Linked DNA regions of Homo sapiens: all the other regions are linked to region 1. Evidence: fine-mapped expression QTL. A gene starts in region 1. Each other region holds a variant in brackets. All regions are shown on one strand. Distances are between the middles of the regions. Region 1 holds the start of SLC45A4 (solute carrier family 45 member 4). Region 2 overlaps SLC45A4 (solute carrier family 45 member 4). Region 3 has its middle 11 kb from the start of LINC01300. Region 4 overlaps SLC45A4 (solute carrier family 45 member 4). Region 5 overlaps SLC45A4 (solute carrier family 45 member 4).

Evidence for each region. PIP is the estimated chance that this variant, and not a neighbour inherited with it, causes the effect. A credible set is the group of variants that fine-mapping cannot tell apart.
Region 2: its variant is the best candidate, but not a certain one, in a credible set for the expression of SLC45A4 in tibial artery (GTEx, PIP 0.77).
Region 3: its variant is the best candidate, but not a certain one, in a credible set for the expression of SLC45A4 in nasal epithelium (TOPMed, PIP 0.63).
Region 4: its variant is the best candidate, but not a certain one, in a credible set for the expression of SLC45A4 in minor salivary gland (GTEx, PIP 0.51).
Region 5: its variant is the best candidate, but not a certain one, in a credible set for the expression of SLC45A4 in lymphoblastoid cells after a statin (CAP, PIP 0.72).

Annotation. Positions count from the first base shown.
Region 1 is chr8:141,305,809-141,309,921 of GRCh38, forward strand. SLC45A4 (solute carrier family 45 member 4) reads right to left here and starts at 2,480. Exons shown (of 9, transcript NM_001286646.2): 1 at 2,288-2,480. RefSeq lists silencers at 2,356-2,455, 2,476-2,715.
Region 2 is chr8:141,245,070-141,249,182 of GRCh38, forward strand. All of the region lies in intron 2 of SLC45A4 (solute carrier family 45 member 4), which reads right to left. Among named protein-coding and RNA genes, the nearest start is that of SLC45A4-AS1, 7.4 kb to the right of the region's middle. RefSeq lists enhancers at 212-381, 1,248-1,928. The variant G/A (reference allele first, on the strand shown) is at 2,532.
Region 3 is chr8:141,327,859-141,331,971 of GRCh38, forward strand. No RefSeq gene overlaps it. Among named protein-coding and RNA genes, the nearest start is that of LINC01300, 11 kb to the right of the region's middle. RefSeq lists enhancers at 1,249-1,785, 1,786-2,320. The variant G/A (reference allele first, on the strand shown) is at 1,806.
Region 4 is chr8:141,206,439-141,210,551 of GRCh38, forward strand. It overlaps SLC45A4 (solute carrier family 45 member 4), which reads right to left. Exons shown (of 9, transcript NM_001286646.2): 9 at 736-4,113. Among named protein-coding and RNA genes, the nearest start is that of SLC45A4-AS1, 46 kb to the right of the region's middle. RefSeq lists enhancers at 1,878-2,385, 2,386-2,893. The variant G/A (reference allele first, on the strand shown) is at 1,582.
Region 5 is chr8:141,211,458-141,215,570 of GRCh38, forward strand. It overlaps SLC45A4 (solute carrier family 45 member 4), which reads right to left. Exons shown (of 9, transcript NM_001286646.2): 8 at 740-1,099; 9 at 1-240. The coding sequence ends at 115. Among named protein-coding and RNA genes, the nearest start is that of SLC45A4-AS1, 41 kb to the right of the region's middle. The variant T/TAGAC (reference allele first, on the strand shown) is at 1,615.

The sequences.
Region 1 (4,113 bases):
GACAACACAGATACAATCCATTCACCACCAAGCAACCTCAAGATTGGCTGAAATACCTTCCTCGGCTCCTTTCCTCCATCGGGAAAGTGGGGAGCTGCCGCTGCCGCAGCCCTCTCCTTCCCTGCAGATCTGCGGGGCGGGCTGGGGCGGGATCTCAGAGCTCACGGAAAGGAGGCAGAATCCGGTTTACAGGCTTGCTCCGCCCCTCCCCCACCCCCCTCCAATAAGCAAAGTTAGAGGGTGTTACAAGCTGCAAGACACACACCTTGGAGCTCACCCAGTCCAATCTCTGATCTGCTTTCACGATGCGACAAGGGCCAAAGCTGCAGCACGCATCTCGGCAGGGCAGCAGGCCACTCCCCCCACGAGGCCCGGGAGGTGGCCCTGGGCAGCCTCCCCACTCCCCGCCCTGTGAACACCTGGGCCAAAAAAACACACCTTTAAATACCCAGTGTGTATTTCAAACACATTTCAAACGATTTGCTTCTTTCCTTTACAGCCACTGCCACAAAAACAATTAGCCTGAACGGGTGTGAAATCCTTGATGTGTAAGACGACCTAGTTCCCCAGCCTCTCTCTAGAAACACATGAGTTCTTTACTGCGCCTGAGTCTCCTCCACCCGGAACCTGCAGGGCTGCCTCTTCTCATCAAGTGGCTTCTGCAAAACCTCTCCCAAGCATTTAAATAATCTCTGCTCGTTCTTTTAACAATAATTCAAACCTAGCAGAAAAGTGAGGACACTATACATTTCTTTTAAGGACAGTGTGTGTTACCTGCTCTGATCCCCATGTGTTACACTCCCTAACCTGTACACCAATACTCCAGCTTTTTGTTTTCTTATTTTTTCCTAAAGCCAGCACAAAATAACAGAAGGATAAGATTCCTACCACATTCTACCTGTCTGCCAATGACACAGGAAGGATGAGACCGTCTGGGGAATGGAAGCGCAGGGCGCTCTCAGTAATGCTGGGCAGATGCAGTGGCTTTTCCCCAGCAGAAATGGGCTTCGATTCAGAATCTACCAGCCCACAAGAATCATCTGACCCCACAACAATTAGTTCAATCACTCATCTGGTAAACCCTCCTCGCTCCGGGTCATAGACTGGAAAAGACAGCCCCCAAAACAGTAATAAAAACGACAAGCCCTGTTTTGCTGGAGTCAGCTGAGGTATCAGATGGGGGTCAGTGGCTAGGTCTGTGAACCTGAAGCCACACTCCATCAGTGACCCGCACTGGAGAGACACAAACACCTCAGGCTCCTTAGGAGGTCAAGCGGCCCTTCCCAGCCCTCCCTAGCCCCCGCCTTCTAGAATCATTCTGAATAGCTAACCAGGAGGCTGGGCCCCGTGTGGATCCGCCTCCGCTGGAAAAGCCGCTGCTGGAAGTGCTCCAATCCAGAGCAGGATACCTGGGGGAGGAACGGGTTAAGCGCAAAGGGGAAAGGGGCAGCGGGTGCTGAGACGCAGAAGGTGCGGGGACTTCTACAGAGCAGGGAATCTGGGCCCGGATGAACTGATGCCCTGGCCTCTTTCCTCCAGGGACAAGGTCGGTCTCAGGAAATCAAGGTATCTTCAAAGGGACACAAGGGAGCGCAGTGCCGATGAGACCGGGGCAGAGCCACAGTCTGGCGGTGCAGGCTGGGGGTCCGAGGCGGGGGACACTGGCTAGCAGTGCTGCCAGGGTCGTGTGTGCACTGGGCAGAGGGAAAGGAGGGGAAGAAGGGAAGGGGAAGAAGGGGAAGAAGGGAGTGTGTTCGGTTGGGAGGACCGGTCCAGACAGAGGGGAGAGGGGGCCACTTCGCGAGTGGTGTATCGCTGGTTGAATTCTCATAAGTTAGAGATAGCAGGCAGGGGTTAGAAGGACAAGACAGGGTCAGGACCAGGAGTTAGAGGCGCCAGGCTCCTCTCTGGGTAGAGAAACCGAGGAACTGGGGGCGGGGAGGACTGATGGGTGCGAAAGCGGGCCGGGTCCAAATGAAGGCGCGCGCCCCGGGGTGGGGGCCGGGGTGGGGGGAATGAGGGAGGCTGCAGGGCTGGGGACCAGGGCAGGTGCAATCCGGAAAGAGGAGGCGGGAAGGAATTGGGGGGCCCTGAGGAGCCAGCGCAAGCCGGGTGGGGGCACGTCCCCTCCCCCGGAGAAGGTGCGGGGCTGGGGCTGCGGCGCGGACCCGACCTGGAGGCCGAGGCTGTGCGGGAGGTGGGGGTGGGGAGGCTGCAGGTGCCCGGCGCCCAGGTGCGAGGTGCAGGGGGCGGCGGGGCAGGCGGCTGCGGGCGGCAGGCCACTCACCTGTCTCCTCCGGCCGGGGCCGCGGGGGCGGCGGGGCGGCCGGGCCGGGCCGGGCAGGGGCTACGGGGGCGCGGAGCCCCGGGCGCACCGGGGTCGGGAGGCGGCTGCGGGTCCGGGCGGGGGCTGCTCCCTCGGCCGGCCGGCCGGGCGGTCAGTCAGCGACGCGGGCGCGGAGAGAGCGCTGCGAGGCTGCGGCCGGCGCGCGGAGACAACGCCGCTTTATCGGGTCGGAAACAGCCGCTCCGCGCCGCTTCCGCTGACGCAGCGCCGGCCCCTGCGCCTCATGACTATGCAGCACCCGCCGCCGCGGGACGGGGATTCGGGGGGCGGGGTCTGCGCCGCGCGCGCTCATTGGCCTCCGCTGCCGCCCACCCCGCCCCCGAACGGCCGCCCCGCCCCCGCCGCGCCCCTGCCCCGCCCCCGCGCGCACCGTGGCTCCCGCCCCCGTCTCGCCATGGCCCCGCCCCCAGCCATAATCCAGCCCCGCCCCCGCCCTCCTCCCGCTACGCCCCCGGCCCCGGCCCCGGCCCCGGCCCCTCCGCACCGAGCGTCCGCCCTCTCTCCCCTAAAGCGCTGGCCCGCAATCCACCCCATCCCTCTCTGCAGCCGCAGGAGGTGGCCCCCGCCTGTCCCCACCTTCTCTCCCCGCTCCTCTCGCCACTCTGTCGCAGAGGGGTCCGGCTAGCCACGAGGCCCCGGCCCCCGGCAGCCCAGCCCCTTGGCAAGCACCCTCCCGCCCCCTCCGCCCCTGCCCGTGGCGCGGCGACATGGGCCCCATCCAGGTGCTGCAGCCCCTCCTCCGCTGCAGGAGAAAACTCTCCTGTTTTCCCCTCCCTGCCACCCTCCGAAGACCTCCTACCTGGTCCCGGACCACGCCCCCGTCCCCAACTCCCCCAACGCCCCGCGCTCTGCGGGTCCCCTCTCCAACCTGGAGAGCGGGGCAGGACGAAGACCCGACCCGGAGCTTCCTGGAGGCTGGGCCTCCCTCTCAGGCTTGGCCCTGGCCAGGGACACTGATCCGTCTCTCCCCACGTGTAGAAGGGCCACAATCCCTAGGGCAGGACTGCTGGGAAACCCCATCAAGACAAGGTCTGGGGAGGCGGCTTTAACAGACAGATGTGATGGGCTGAGGCCAACCCTGTTAACGTCGCAGCCCTGCACCCTTGCCAGGGTTTAAGTTGCTTTGGAGGAATTACTTCATTTCTCAGAACCTTGGCGTCCTCATCTGTAAAATAGAAATCGTAAGATCCATCTCACCTGTTGCTAAAGGAATTTAGAAGTGAAGTGCAGAGCAGAGCCTCCAAGAGCATCGGAAATGGGAAAATCTGACCATATCAAGTGTTGACAAGGAAATGGAGCAACTGGAACTGCCAGACACTGTTGGTGGACATGCAAAGTGGTACAACTTTCAAAATCTTTTTGAAAGGCCTTGATTACCCAGCAATTCTGCTCCTAGATACACACCTAACATTGTGTTTCTGTTGATAGCAGCAGTGTTTATAATTGCCCCAAACTGGAAACTACTGAAATGCTCATCAGCCGTTAAATGGATACATAAATTGTGATATATTCACACAGTGGAATGACAGCAATGACAGTGAATAATCAACTACACACAACAACATGGATGACTCTCACAAATGATGTTGAGGAAAAGAAGCCAGAGGATAAAAAGCCATATTTGTTTCCATGTGGATAAAGTGGTAGAAGGTGTATATGGGGGTAGCAGTCAGGATAGTGGTTACCCTTGGAGGGAGGGGTGCCAGAGCCAGGAAGCAGGGCACAGAGGACGTGTCTGGGGGCTGGCTGTGTTCTGTGTCTTGGTC
Region 2 (4,113 bases), 61 kb before region 1:
GACAAGTTACCACCAAGGCTGCTGACTACGAACCCAAGTGGAGAAAAAGATAATGACAGTAATAACAGCTAACAATTACAGGCTCTGTTCTAAGCACATCATATGTGTCAACTCTGCACACGTTTCCAGAAGAAAGGAGATGCTGGTATCTGCTGAGATAAGTAAGGCTACACACTTGGAACATGGTCGATTTTTGGATTCTCCAAGAGGAGCCAACATTGGGTTGCTGGCTGCTGCTACCTCCACCACCACCGTTTCGAGGAGGGACAGGAAATCTCTGTCACTTGAGCAAATAATGGAAATGAAAGAGAAACCAGAAACAGGACTTGAATCATCATCATAAAGGAAAGTGTTAATTCATCACTCAACGAACAATGGGCCTTCCGCTCCATCACGTCTTCTGTCCAGGGTTCCCAGAGCCCCCTTTACTGCTTGCCTCCCCCAGGGCTGACCCGGGGGGCAGCCAGCAGAATCCCAGAGCATCAGGGACTCCCAGGAGACCCCAAAATCTGGTCTCAGCATCATAAGCACACCAAAGTCACCTGATGGCAGACAACTCCCAACCTGCCGCTCAGAGGAGGCTGGACTCTTAGAGCTAGATGGGACTCACAGACCCTCAGCGTGTCCCAACCCCAGACCAGCCTTAGGCCCAGGAGTCAAGGGCAGGGGGAAGGGAGGGGCCTCCCAGGGGCAGCAGCACTGTCTGCCAGCAGCATCGCAGGCAGTGTCACCACTAACTTCTGAAGAAGATAGCACACTGCCTGGGCTAAGGATGGTGCAGGCTGAATTGCTTTAGGAAACTGCCATCAAGGGCCACCTCACACACACGGGCATTAGCTGGCTGCTCCTAGATTCCAAACAACTCCTCTACTGATGCTGATGATGGCAGAGACTGAGCTAATTTGCTTCTCACAGCTTCCAGTTTGCTGATTTTCAAAGGGAAAGTTTTCTTTGGGGAAGAGAGAAAGGGCAGACTTGCTATTGCTTGATATTTCAAAACGAGTTACAATCTAAGGTTTCTGCTGCGATATTTATCAATACAAACATGCTGCTTCTGTAGTACCTTCGTACCCCTTCTACCAAGATGAGGATTGAGACAACGGGAAAAATTCCAATGTACCCAAAGTTATACAGGGGGAAGCAGTGCAAAGAGTCTGACAAACAGAATATTCTGAGCACGTGTACTGGTTTCCTGCTGCTGCGTAACAAACTGCACACCACCCAGCGGCACCGAGCAACAGTGACGGCCACATACCTCCTGCGGCCGGGAATTCAGGCACAGCTCTGCGGGGTGGCTCTGGTTTGGGGCCTCTCACAGGCTCCTGGACTGAGAGCCTCGGCCCTGGGGGTGTTGGCTGAGGCCTCCTGCTCAGTTATTTGCCATATGGGTCTTTCCAAGAAGGCAGCTTGATTCATCAAGATGTGCAGGCCAAGGCAGCAACAGAGAGGGTCTCCCAGCAAGGTGGAGTCACACGTTTGCGTCAGGCGACATCCCCTCGATGCTGCCATATTCTATTGGTTAACAGGAATTACTCAAGGGGAGGGCATTGCACAAGGCCGTGAAAGCCAAGGGGTGAAGGTCACGGGGTCACACAGAGGGTATCTCAGGGGTCTCTTAGAGCCTCTTTATACTCCTCCCTGACCCCTCTGTGTAACAGCAAATTTATTAGAAATGAAACCATTTCTAATAAATGATTTTATTAGGAAAGAAAAATATAAAAAAACCAATGCTATAAGCTTCACCTTAAGAAACTAGAAGAAGTAGCCAGTTGTGGTGGTGCACACCTGCAATCCCAGCTACTCAGGAGGCTGAGGCAGGAGGATTGCTTGAGCCCAGGAGTTTCAGTCCAGCCAGCCTGGGCAACACAGTGAGACACCATCTAATAATAGAAAAATAATAAACTAGAAAAAGAGCAAATTAAAACCAAGTAAGCAGAAGAAAACAAAATGAATATAAGAGCATAAATTAACAAAATAGAAAATAAACAACAGAGGAAAAAACCGAATGAAGCTGAAAGCATAGTCTTTGAAAAGACCAACAAAATTGATAAACCTTTAACCAGGCTGATCAAATTACCAATATCAGGAAAGAAGGAACATCAATACAGGTCTTACAATTAAAAGTTACTGGAACTACTAAGTGAGTTTGGCAAAATTGCAAGGTATAAGGTCAATATATAAAAATCACTTATACTACTCTATAGAACGATGAACAACCAGAAATGGAAATTAAAGCAGTGCTATTTACAATAACATGATAACAATGAAATACTTTAAGTATGTGACGGACCTACATACTAAAAATTATGAAACATTCCTAGGAGAAATTAAAGACTTAAGTGTGTTGAGAAGATATATTATGTTCATGGATCGAAGGACTCGAAATTAAGATGTCAATTCTCTATAGATTCAATGCAATTCCAGTAAAAATCCAGCAGGCTTTTTGTAGAAATTGATAACTCTAAAATTTATATGGAGATGTGAAAGAACTGCAACAGCCAAAACAAGTTTTCTTTTTCTTTTTTAGAAAC[G/A]AGGTCTTGCTGTGTTGCCTAGGATGGTCTCGAACGCCTGAGTTCAAGCAATCTTCCCGCCTTGGCTTCCCAAAGTGCTGGGATTACAGGTGTGAGTCACTACGCCTGGCCCAAAACAAGTTCCAAAAGGTAGGCATATTTCCTAATTTCGAGATGCCCCATAAAACTACAGAAATCAATCAATCGTTGTATCAGGAACAGACATATAGATCAATGGAACAGAATAGTGCCTAGAAACAGATTCACAATATAGGTAGCCAGTAAATGCCAACAGAGGTGCCATGGATTTCAATGGGAAAGGACAGGCTTTTTACAAGTGATGCTGGAACAACTCAATTTCCACGTGCCAGATGGAGGGGGAATCCCTCAACTCTTACGGTATACAAAAATTCACTCAAAATGGATCACAGACCTAGGTGAGAGAACTACTGAGGCATCTAGAAGGAAACATAAGGGAAAATCATTAAGACTTCAGGCCCAGGAGTTGAAGCTGCAGTGAGCCACGATCACAGTACTACACTCCAGCCCAGGCAATGCAGTGAGACCTCCAGCTCTTAAAAAAGACTTCAGGTCAGGCAAAGAGTTCTTAATTGAAAAAGAACAAAAAAGAACATATTTGATACACCAAATTTCATCAAAATTTAAAACTTTTGCTTTCTGAAAGATACCATTAGGAAAATGGAAAGGAACCTGGCACAGTGGCTCACGCCTATAGCCCCAGCACTCTGGGACTCAGGCAGGAGGATCACTTGAGCCCTGGAGTTCTAGACCAGCCAGGGCAACATAGTGAGACTCCATCTCCCTAAAAAATTTAAAATATTAGCTAGGTGTGGTGGTGCGTACCTACAGTCCAAGCTACTCAGGAGGCTGAGGCGGGAGGATCACTTGAGCCCAGGAAGGTTGAGGCTGCAGAGAGCTGTGATCACACCACTGCATTTCAGCCTGGGAAACAGAGTCCCTGTTTAAAAAAAAAAATAATAATAAATAAATAAAAGTGGCTCATGCCTGTAATCCTAGCACTTTGGGAGACCAAGGTAAGAGGATCACTTAAGCCCAAGAGTTCAAGACTGGCCTGGGTGACATAGCAAAACCTCGTCTCAATAAAGTGTAAGAATATATAAAAAAACAAAACAGGCTAGGCCTGTAGCTCACATCTGTAATTACAGCACTTGGCGAGGCTGAGGTGGGCAGATGGCTTGAGCCCAGAAGTTCGAAACCAGCCTGGGCAACATACGGTGAAACCCCATCTCTACAAAAAATACAAAAATTAGATGGGCGTGGTGGTGCACACCTGTAGTCCCAGCTACCTGGGAGGCTGAGGTGGGAGAATCAGCTGAGCCCAGGGAGGTCATGGCTGCAGTAAGTTGTGATAGTGCTGTGGCACTCCAGCCTGGGTGACAGAGTGAGACCCCATCTTAAAAAAAAAAAAAAAAAAAAGACATGCAAATTAAAGCTGCAATGAGATATGGTTCACACCCACTTCGATGAATGAAGTTGAAAAGGACTGACAACACTAAACATTGACGACGATGTGGAGAAATGGGAACTGTCCTACGCTGCAGTGGGAATGCAAGATGGTACC
Region 3 (4,113 bases), 22 kb after region 1:
GCTGGGATTACAGGCTCACATCACCACGCCCAGCTAATTTTTGTATTTTTAGTAGAGACGGGGTTTCACCATGTTGGCCAGGCTGGTCTTGAACTCCTGACTTCAGGTGATCTGCCTGCCTCAGTCTCCCAAACTACTGGGATTACAGGTGTGAGCCACTGCACCTGGCCCCTTCTTTAGTTTTCTTTTCAACCATTTAAAAATGTAAAAACCATTTTAGCTTGCAGTCCTACAGAAACAGGTGGCTGGCCAGCTTTGGTCTGAAAGCCAGCCCTGCCCTAAGTGAAGGAGCCCTCTCAGCACTAAGAGGCGCCGGGCCAGACCTGCTTATCGATCACCTTTGGGCCCAGTGTGGGGCTGCTGCTCCGGAAACAATTTTTCTTTTTCTTTCAAGATTCACCAGCTCTGTTCAGGAGGGTGGCCAGCTTGGCGACCTGGACATTTAATCCTCCAGCCAAAGATTCCCTTCTGTGCGGCAGCCCTGAGGGGGCTGTCTAGATGACCTCACTTGAGCTGAGTGACTGCCTGGGATGTGGGTCCCGTGAATGGGGCACCTGTTTCACAGATGAGCAAACTGATGCTCCGAGGCAAGTTACTCAATCCCCTGACCCCGGCACGGTGCCCCGCCTCTTGGAGCCCAAGCCAGCGGGGCTGAGGCAGGGGCTGCTGGGGGTGGACAGGGGAGGTGGGCTTGGGAGCACTGAAGAAAGGGTGACACTCCAGGCATCTGTGAAAGCCCAGAAGACATCCCTAGACAAAGGAGGAAACAGGGTTAGGGAAGGGCACTCCTAGAGAAGGAGCAGCTTGCAGAGGCCCAGTAGTGGCACCACAGGGGCAGCTGGAAGATGTGGCACCACGGGGGCAGCTGGAAGATGTGGCACCACGGGGCAGCTGGAAAGTGGGGTTGGTGGGCAGAGGTGAGACTGAGTCCTGGGAGAAGTCCACACCGGACATGGGAGACTTTCCCCTGACCTGATGGGCTTTATTTAAGCAAGGAAGGGACTGGTGTGAATTAGATTGGAGACACTCCCTCTGTCGGCACAGAGACAGCACTCTCCACTAGAAATCTCATGCCAGCCTCGTGAATAATTTCTAATTTTCTATCAGCCACGTTAGGAAAACGGAAAAAGAATTTGATGCAAATTATTTTAGTAATATATTTTATGGAACCTAATATATCCAATATATTATTTAAACGTGTCATTCATATAACAAATTATGAATGAGATATTTCACAGTCTGTCTCATACTAGGTGGGGACATATTCCACGCTTACCGTACAACTCAATTCGGACTGGCTGCACCTCATGTACTCAGAAGACAGGCTGCAGTCTTGTATGACATCTTGGATGAGACTCAGGCCGCAGTCTTGGATGACACATACGTGGACATCGGGCTGTGGTGGCCGGAGTAGAGTCAGAGAGGCTGGAAGGAGGCCCTTTTCCAGGGCAGGAATGATGGTGCCTGGCCTGGAGCTGTGGTGGGGTTCCTGGCCCTCCATTCAGCTGCCAGCCCATCCCAGCTTGCACCGGAGGGAAGCAGCGGGCCTGGGCTCTGCGGCATCCCAGGGGGGCAGGTCACAGGGCAGCTACCCTACCCCAGCCTCCTCCCTGACCCCGCCGGTGTCTGCCCAGACAGCCGGCATCCCCATCCCGCTGGGCTGGCTCCCGGCCCTGCCCTACCCCCAACTCCAGACTCATGTCAGGCTTCCTGTCCCAGCCGGAGGGTGACCCGAGGCCTGACCCCAGAGGCCCAGGCGATGGGCCCGGAAGGAAGGCCGCCTCCTTGATGCAGCCACAGCAGGC[G/A]GGGCTGGGGCTTCCCCATGGACTCCCTCGGGAAGCACTTCACACTTTGGTGGGCGCTCAGCCAGGGCGGCCCCCAGCAGCGGCAGGAGGCGAGGGCCTCTGGGGCAGGGAGGACATGCACCTGCGCCTGGGCCTGTGAGGGGCTCCCCCACCACAGCGTGGGGTCTCTGGGCATGCCAGGGTTGCCCCCACTAGACAGCCAGGGTTCTCAGGGAACACAGAGCAGGCAAGCAGGCCGGCTTCTGCTTCAGCCTCAGCCCCTGTCCGCACCTGGGGCAGCACAGGACAGGTTTAGGAACAGACCCTAGCTGCACGCCTGGTGAGGACCTTCACCTCTGGGCCTCCCGCTGCTCCTCTGTGAAAATGGAGGTATCGGGGTGTTCGTCCCTTCTAGGGCCAGAGAGAGATGGCAGCGAATGCACGTGGTCCCTAAAGGAGAGCCGTCCGTGGCCACGTAGGAAAGTGTCAGGCCCAGCTCCTCATTCCTGGGATGTGGCCTTTTCTCACCTGCGCTGAACTCTGCTCTCAGGACTCAAACCCTGAGCTGCTGTGGAGGCTAACTCACTCATGCTCCAGGCCCATCTTCTGAATAAGTTTCCCAGACCCTCCAACCTGCCCTCCGTGTCGGCCCTGGGGTGCCTGCCTCTCCTTCCCTCTTCCTCTTCTTCTCACAAATATGGGCCGAGCTCATGTGATACGTCAGGCACTATGCTAGGACGTGGGGGTCCAGCTGGAAGGGACAGGACAGAACCCTGCCCTCCTGGAGCTGGCAGTCTGTAGCAGACACTAATCAGTTAAACAGATCACAAACTGTGACTGTCTCCAGCAGAGACACCTGGTTGGCCTTGGGGGAGCACATAGCAGATGGATGGGGGTCCCTGCCCAGGGCTGCCGGCAGGCGGTGCACCTTGCACTGCTCACTTAGTCCCACAGCCTCGCTTGCCCGCAGGCAGTGTGTCCTCTGCACACTTTCAGGGCTCCGTCCTTCTGCCCAGCGCCTCTGCAGGCTACGCCTTCTGTGCTGGGCCTCTGGGCATAGTTACTAGGCAGCCAGGGCTGGGGCCAGCCCTTGGCCTTAGCTCAGCTCCAGGGAGGATCAAGAGGGTGTCCAGTGTGGCCGTACACCTGGGCACCTGCTTCAGAATCCAGGTCCTTGGGAAACAAGTGGCTTTGGTCTTGCCAATGCCTTTGCTCTGTTTTCAGCTGGGAATTAAGCTGGGGAACAGCAGGAGGGGCAGCATTTGCTGGCCCTGGTGCAGGAGGTTGTGGGTGAGAAGAGCCGAGTTCAGGTCCCCACCTGGGCAGCCTGTGGTGTGAGCTAGAGGTGCAGAAGCCTGCGGGGACACGGAGGGCAGCCGGGCAGGAGCCTGCGGGGACACGGAGGGCAGCCAGGCAGGAGGCTGCGGGGACGTGGAGGGCAGCCGGGCAGGAGCCTGCAGGGATGCGGAGGGCAGCAGGGCAGGCTGGGCTTTCTCCAGTGCTTGCTCCCCTCCCAAGGGAGTTCCTAATTTGGGTCCCCCTGCTCTTCCTTGGTTGAGTGGGCCCCACGCACTTGGCTATGATCCAGCAGACTCCTGCGTCCTGGTGTGTCCCTGCCCCACCTTCCCACTGCCCTCGGCCTCTCTCCCAGCCCCTGGGAGCTGGGTTTTTTGCTTCCAATTTCAAATACATCAGACTCCATCCCACTGTCCTATCCCAAGGTGTCTTTTGCCTTTCTGGGAAAATAAAGTGGCAGGGGAGTGAACCCACCGCAATGGGACAGCCCTCCTCCTGTCCTCCGCGGGAGCAGCATCTCGCAGGGGCTCCGCCAAGCCTTCGAGGCCCAGCCAAAGCTGGGGTGGGGGCACTGGCCGGAAGCTTAGGGGAGGGGGAGCCTGCAGGACTTCACTCCTGTGCCCGTGTGGCCGGGGGTACCTGCTTGACCTCTGAGCTGTCACCGGGAATAGTGTCCAGCCTGCCTGCCTGCTGGGACCTCTGCAGAGACCATGAGCTCAGTCCTCAGGGCCTAGGTCCTGGGTTAACACTGAGGGCTGTGCGGCCAAGGACCCCGGGGTGGGCATGACCGGGGTGTGTGGAGGAAGGAAGGGGGTCTGGGAAAGGATGCAGACAAGAGGTGGGTGCTGGGCCAGCACCTGCTTCTGTTCTTGGCCTCAGGACCGTCTATGGAATTGGGAGTAATTCTCTGCAACATGGGCCCTGCAGCCGAGGTCTGGGCAGAGGCGTCAGGGCACAGAGCAGTGGTACCACCATGCCAGGGAGATGCTCAGGCCAGGACCAAGCAGAAAGGGGAGCTCACCATAAACTCCCT
Region 4 (4,113 bases), 99 kb before region 1:
CCATCCAGGAGCCCCGTGGTGACACCCCCCAACTATCAAAGTCCCTCGTCCCTTTCTCCCTCGTCTGAGCAGATCCCTTCTACTCCACACCCCGGCCCTGCTGGGACCCCTTCCACGCCCCACAAATCAGAAGAGCCACTGAAGAAAACTTGCTTCCGGATTCAAACCCCAGCAGCTGGGTAACCCGGGGCAAGTCCCCTCCCTTTCATTTCCTCCACTGCCAACTGCCAGTCACAGCCCTCAGTGGGGTGCCAGAGGACAGAGATGACTCACTCTGCCTGTAGGAAGGTCAATGGAGCGCTCTTCCAGCCGCCCCAGGACCCCATATGTCCCCTGGGGCGCCAAAGCCAGGTGCACACACCGGGCCACCCCGTCCTCAGCCCAGCGTGGCCCCTCCTGCTGGCAGCAACAGCAAGCAGGCTGCCTCCTTAAGACACTGGCTCCAGGGACAGTCAGGGACCCTTCAGCAGAGGTAGACCGCGGGCCCCACCCCGGCTCCACCAGAACAGGCCTGCAGAAGGCCCAGGCCTCAACCCCACCTGAGTGGGCCTGTGTGTGGGTTCCAGGGACAGGCCCCGGATTTGCCAGCTGGCGGCCCTCTGGGAAGCAAATGCTCTGGTACTTGGGCCCAGCTCCCCTCCGCAGGCCTCAGACAGCCCACTAGACCCACCAGGCTCCAGGAAGGCAGAGGGCAGGAGGCCACAGGGAAGTGACAGACACACCCACATCATCATGTCAGAGGGAAAAGTTTATTGAGTCAGCCACAGAGGAACAGAGAAACAGACACAAGGAGGTTCTGTGTGCATGGAGGAAATCAGGGCGCCGCACAGCTGAACCCTGCGCAGGACAGAGGGGCGCGGACAGCAGCGCATGCCACAAACATTCACCTGGCAAAGAAACAGAGCAGAACCTAAGGGCTCTGTGTACACACAGACACAAACATGAGGCCACTGTTACCCAACTAATAGAAGAGAGTCATGAGCGACACGACACTTCCTTACGACCTCTCTCTCCTAAAACGTAACATTATGTGTTTAACACACGCTTACCACCACTGCTAACTCAGCAAGCGCGATTACAGTGCTCCAACTTAATAAGTTGATAAAAAGCTGTCCCGTGGCCAGTTCACAATGGAACTAAATAGTTTCGTTCCGAGATGCCTGGGGAGTTTCTCTGGCAACGAGGCATTTCCAACAAACGGGTCATTCTGTCACCAGGGGATGGTCTCAGTCCACGGCACAGAGCGACGTGCCCCTGGCAGCACTGTGGAGGGCAAGGGATGCCGCTAGGAGGGGTGCTCAGTCCTCCTGGAGGACCCAAGGAGGGGCTGGCCAAGGGGCCACCTTGAGCTCTGGCCGGAGGGTGATGGCTGGCTTTGCATGAGGAGGTGACAAGAACTTTGGGCTGGGCCCCCAACATGCTGTGTGCACGGGCCTTGTTCAACTCGGAACTGAACTGACACCTCTCCCAGGTGGTGAAGGGCAGAACCCCCCCAGGAGCTCTCGGAAGCAGGGGTCCCTCACGACAGGCCTGTGGCACCAGGCTTGGAGGCAGGGAGCTGGTGTCTCTCAGAAGCGGCGC[G/A]TGCTGGTGGGAGGCGGAGGGACAAACGAGGCTGACTCCGCAGCAGCAGTCCCTCACACGCTGTGTGGTGGCTAAAGCTGGACCAAAGTTAAGAAGCGAAACAGCGTGGGAAAAGGTGTCCATCTTTTCTGAAGCCGGTTAATGTCTAGTGTGGACAGCAATATTTGGTGTTTTAACAAACCTGGTCTCTAATAGGGGCCGCCATCGCTGGTGGCTGCACAAACCATTAGCCATATAAGGGAACAGTTGGTATCTTTAAGAGTATTTTTCAAACATGTCACCCGAACATCACCGCCCCAGCAGTGGGAGAGCCGAGGGTGGCCTGCAGCTCCCCCTTCCAGCCCTCTTGTTGCTGCAGGGACGGCTTCCTGTTCAGCTCTGGGGTTCTAGGTGGTCACAGACCAAGTCCTCCACACCTGGGGCATTCAAGAAACACTCCTGATGGCTGTTGGAAGCCACTAACCATCTGAGGAGGGCTCAGTGGCCCTGCCTCCCCCCCGGGGACAGGACTGGACAGAGTGCTTCTCCCAGGGGCCTGAGGCTTTCAAGGGCAGGTGTCCAAGAGGCAGCACACAGCACTGACGTGTTCAGTGGCAGGTTGGAGGATTCCAGCTAAGGCCCCTGCCTGAGAGTGAGAAAAACAACACTCCAAAGCTAGCTCTTCAGCCACCAGGGAACGTCATGATGCCAGTCTGCCGACAGACCCAGGAAAGGGGACACAGGCAGGCCGGCCCAGCTGAGAGCTCACGGCCTCTGCCCCTTCCCGCCAGCTCGCATTCCTGCACCTGGAAACTTCTGCCATGTGTTAAGGGGAAGCTCGTTAAAAGAGTCTTTACTTAGCTGACTTGTATAGGGAACAAAACCACCACAAATGAGACCAACATTATCCTAGTTTGGTAACTGGTCTGCGCACATTACACAAGACTCGACCAACCGACACACCCTGCCTGACACTCCACTCAGTGTGCAGAGGCACCCAGGCCACCAGCCTGCACAGCCCACACCCCAAGGGTGCCACGAGCCCAACTCCAGCTGCGTCCTCAGCACTGGATGGCTGGCCAGCTTCCCCAGGGGGCACCCGCACGGCCTCCTCGTCCCTCTCGGGCAAGGCTATCAGCCAGAGCACCTCCCCTTTGACACTGACCGGCGTCCCCAGCCCCGCCTTGTTACTGCATCCGTCTGAGGTACAAGGTTAGAAGCCACAGACACCCGAGCTGCAGCCTGACCCACACAAGCTGCGGGCGCAATGGCGCTTTGCAGACAAGACAGCCTGCCCGTCTGCCCTTCTTCTCGGCTTCCCTTAAGACACAAGGTGACGACACGGACGGTTTCAAGTGAGTGCAATCTGGAAATAATCTCAGTGCAGGGGAGGGGTTGAGGCCAAAGATGTCGTGACCTGGTCCCCGCTGTGGCCAGGCCGGGCCCACACGCACCGCCAGAGCCCCGGTCACCCACACCTGCCTCCCAGGAAGGCAGCTCCAGAAACCGACTCTACTGACCCTGGACCCCAGCCCCTGCGGTCCCCTCATTTGGGCTCTGCACACTGACCTGCACACTAAGAAGGGCTTTGCTTGCAAACACCTGAAGTGCTGACAGCTTGACGAGTCTACAAAGTGTGCAGCCACCGACTCCTGTCACCGAGGAGCACACAACAGTCACGCCTGTCCCTGGCTGGCACTGGCTTCCGGCACGTTCATACCCTGACAGTGACTGTGGCAAGGCCATGTGGAGGGCACTGAATGGCCTTTGTTGTCCTTACTTCAGATTAGTCGAGGCTGGGATCTCAAGGGTTAACACACTATTCAGAGGGGGGTTGCGAAGCCCCTCTTCCTCCTAAAAATCAAGTCGCAGCCAGGCCCTGAGACTTCTGCACTCCCAGCTGGCGAGGAATCGGCTTTGGTGAGCCCTGGATCCGGCCCCTGGGCCTTCAGATGAGGGTGGGAAGCCTCAGGCAAGGGGTGGCCCCCAGATGAACCCACATTTGGTGTGGTTTGGGTCGGATCTTGATTCGGGTCAGGCCACTGCCACCCCACATCCGCTGCTTTCTTGCCTCCAACTGTTTTATAGTCGTCAGGACGAGAAGCCGGAGAAACCAGCTAAGACGGGAGCTGCGCCTCGAGATCCTGACAAGTACAGCCAGGTCTCAGAGAGGGGATCTACAGTCTTAAAGCCGCTAGAGGATCAAGTTGCATAGAGTGAGCTGCCACGGACGCCCGGCCGAGGTGAGGAAGCCAGGGGTGCCGTCCCCCAGAGAAGAAGGGCCACAGTGCCCAGCCCACGGGGCTCCCGCTGGCCGGAGGGCTCGCAGCAAAGCTGGCAGCACTTTCAGTAGTCGGACTTGCCCTGTCCAAGCACGAGATTCACAAGGCCATTCTCAAGTTTCCACACATCCAGAAAATGTTCTTGAAGTCTTGAAAGTCAGCCCTCTGCGATCCTGGGACACCGTGGCCTGGCAGACACACCGTGCGTGAGCAGGTACCCAACTGCCACCCGGACACAAACACACAATCTACAAAGTGCCACCAGCGGCAG
Region 5 (4,113 bases), 94 kb before region 1:
AGGCCCCCCGGACCAGCCTCCTCCCAGCTTTGGTGTGCGGTCGCTGCCCAAGGACAGGGCTGCCCTGGGCACAATGTGTCCAACTCGCTGAGGAAAAGAAGATACGTCATTCTTCTAAGAGAACCACATTGTGGAAAAGAAAATTTTTTTTCTAAAATAATCATAAAGAAAAATACTCTCCAACAGCTGCGGCACCAGCCAATGTGACGAGATCTGACAGACGTCAATACCTGCAGGCGTCTACAGAGAGGAAATTTGATAAAAATATTTTAGTCACTGACTACACTACCATTATCTGAAGCATTCAGATAAGACTTAGCAGAGAATGTCAGATTTTGTTTTCAATTATAATTTTAGAAATGCAAAATCTTATTTTTTCTAAGTTGCTTATTGTCTATATAAATGTTTTATATCATTTAAAAACATGCAGAATAATACACCTGCAGAATAAAAGAGCTGAAATTAAAATATCTTTTTCAATTAAAAAAAATATTTCAAATGATTCTTTTAATTATCGAAAAAGTGGTTAGTGTGGTATTTGCTTAGTAGCTCAAACCTACCCTACGACTACTGAATTGTGGCTATGGGGGCGGAGGGGCTCTGGCCCGCACTGCCGGGTCGGCCACAGCATCTGCAGGGTTCCGCGGTGTCTCTGCTCCCGCCCATGGCCTGGCCCCGCCGCCCGCCCGCCCGCCCACCCGCCCACTGGAATGTGTGTAAACGGGAGTGCGGCTCAGACCACGGACTCTGTCTCCACCGGTCCCTGCAGGCCCTCCTTCCGCGTGAGCTTCAGCACGGTGGGCTTTTCGCTGTTCCCACCGGCCCTGCCTTCGCCGGCCAACGGGGAAGACAGGCCTTTCTGCTCCTCCTTGGCCTCCTCTGACACGTTGGGATAGATCACCAGGAATGTGGCCGTCAGGAAGCCCAGGAAAGAGCCCACAGAGGCCACCATGGGGATGACGCGGACAGTCCCCACGGCGTCGACCACGCCCCCAAGGGCAGAGGCCACCAGGATCTGCGAGATGTACACTTGGCAGGACAGGATGGCACAATCTATGCCAAACCCTCGCTTGGAGTTCCCGGGGCTGTGGTGGATGTACTGCAAGAGAGGAAACACGAGGCGGTGAGCGGCTGGAGAAGGTGGCTGCTACCCGTGCTTCACAACTGTGAGTATTAACCCACAAGCCTGGAAACATGACCCGTCTTCCACCGAGTCTCTTGGCAACCACTCCTGCCTGAGCACCCTCAATCCCCCAGCTCCTGTCCAGCACTGTACAGGCGGAAGAGGTGGGAAGTTCTAGCTCAAGGAGAGGGCAGGCGTGGAAGCAACTCTGTCAATCCAGTCGGGACGTGGGCTTCCCAGGAATCTGGCCTCCAGTCTCAAGGAGAGGTGGCAGGGCCAGGCTCCACCAGGCGGGCTCCCCCTCACCCTGGTGGTCTCCAGCAGGGGCTGAGTGGGGAGGGGTGCTGTGAGCCCAGGTTGATGCCTCCCAAAGTATAACTGCAGGTGGCCACGTGCAACAAAGGCTGGACCCACGGAAAGAGTGAGCAGTTTCACTTGTGTTTCTTGCACAAAGATACAAAAGAAAACTGCTGTACATATATTACTACCAT[T/TAGAC]AGCATCTCTGCAAAGGCTTTTTCCTAGAGATAGTGAAAAAAAGGTCAGTCCACTAAGAAGCTAAAAAACAAAGCAGCTCTAAATGTGTGTGCCATAATCACAGTGAGAGATGGTTATCTACCTTTCAGAAAATAGAAGCAGGAAGAGAAGAGCTAAGCAATGTCAAGGTTGACCTCACAGACAGAGACGGGGCACTAGGTGCAGGACCCACATTCTTTCCAAGCGTACACGGAACATTTACCAACACGCGTGATGTGCTGGGCCACAAAGGAAGCCTCAGCTAACTGTAAGGCTGCAACCACATGGGGTATGTTCTCTGGCCATTAAGGAGTCACACTGGAAATCAGTAACAACAGGACAACTGGAAAAAGCCCAAATGTCAGAAATTCATCAGTGTCCTTCTAAATAATTCATGGTTCAAAATAGAAATCGTAATGAAAATTATAAAAATCTTTTAAAAGAAAACCCAACATTAAAACCTGCATGGTGCAGCTAAAGGTGTGTGTGGAGGGAAACTGACCTTAAATGCAAATATTAGCCTGGAAATCAGACTAAGAAATGAGCAACAGCAAATTAAACCAAGACATAACGGAAGGCAGGAGACAGCAAAGGGCGGCAGTGAACGCGCAAGCACGCGGACACGTGGCAGGGAGGACTAAGACGCCGAAAGTTCTTTGAAACACAAATAAAATCAATAAAGTCTCAGATAACTAACACGGGAGGAAAAAGGTGTTATCACTATAGGTTCCATCACATTAGATCATAAGAGAACAATTTAATGCTAATAATCTTGAAAGTGCAGATGAAATGGACACATTCTCAGAAAAACACAAATTAAAGCATCATACTCTGGGCTGGGCACAGTGGCTTCCACCTGTAATCCCAGCACCTTGGGAGGCCGAGACGGGTGGATCACCTGAGGTCAGGAGTTTGAGACCAGCCTGGCCAACATGGTGAAACTGTCGTCTCTACTAAAAATACAAAAATTAGCTGGGTGTGGTGGCAGGCGCCTGTAGTTCCAGCTACTCGGGAGGCTGAGTAGCCAGGAGGCAGAGGTTGTAGTGAGCCGAGATTGCACCACTGCACTCCAGCCTGGGCGACAGATCGAGACTCTGTCTCCAAAAAAAAAAAAAAAAAGCATCATACTTCCTAGTAAGATATTAAATACTCCCCTGTTGAGTTTGAAAGAGCAAACACCACTTCTACATATTTAGTATTGGAGGTTCCAGCCATTCCAAGAAGGCAAGGAAAATAAGTAACAGGTACGAAGGATCAGGAAGGAGAAAACGGAGCTCATTAGACACAGATGATGTGGCTGTGTAAGTAGATGGCCCAAAGAATCTCCAGATGTGCTGAGGATTAATAATAGAAGGGCATGTCACACTGATGCACTGAGGATTAATAATAGAAGGGTATGTCACACTTAGGGATAGGAAGTTCCATACTACAAAGTCATTCACTCTCCCCAAATTGACCCATATAATTTGTTTTTAATTTTAAAAGCCCAGAAGCTGAATCTAACATTTAGATGACAAATAAATGGTTGAGAATAGCCAAGACAATCTTGAAGAAGAACAAAGTTGAGGGATTTCTACTACCAGTTTTCAGGACTTATTACAAAACTAGTGAGAGACAGTTGACATTTGTGCAAGAATAGAGAGACTAGCGGAAGAGAAGAGAGCGGAAACACATGCTTACACGGAAGCCCAATTTATGGCAAAGGTGGCACTGCACAGAGGGGCGGGGAGCAGTGCTGGGTCATGACCTAGGCAGACACCCATATGTAGGGAAAAAAATAAAAGTCTTGAACCCCCACCTCAAACCACACACACCACACTACTCCAAGGAGACTGTCAGCCAACAGCACGGGCACAACAGGAGGTGTTTGTGGCAAGGGACGTTCATGCAGTGCTACCTGTGACGGCCCCAACCTGGAAGCACCCAAAGGCTCACAAAGCAGGGTGCATCTGGCCATACACTGTGACATGAAAAGGCTGGCCGTGCTGCCGCCAGCAAGCACGTGAGTGAATCCTAGAGGATGAAGCCAGATGTTTCAGCTGCATAAAGTCCAGAAAGAGGCAAGAGTCTGCCTGTGCTGCGGCTACTGAGCATTTGAGATAAAGCTCGTCTCATGTGTGATGTGCTGTGATGTAACATACACACAATTTCAACGATGAGCAAGAGTGTAAGGTATCTCGATGACTTTTTTCATATAGAGTACATGCTGAAATAATGTTTTAGATACACCAGGTTGAATAAATATGCTATGAAAATGGCCTTCACTGGCCTTTTCACTTTCTAAACGTGGCCGCCAGGAAGTCTAGGCATACCTGGGTGGCTTTCCTCCCATCCAAGTGGAAAACACGGGGCTGGAGCTTCCCCCTCAGGGAAATGTGACTGGGCCTGAGGGGACCAAAGGGGCAGGGACAGTGCTTTTGCCTCCAGAAGCCTCTGGAGGTGCTAGGGGGGTGGGGGCGGCTGAAGGAGAAGACCCTTTG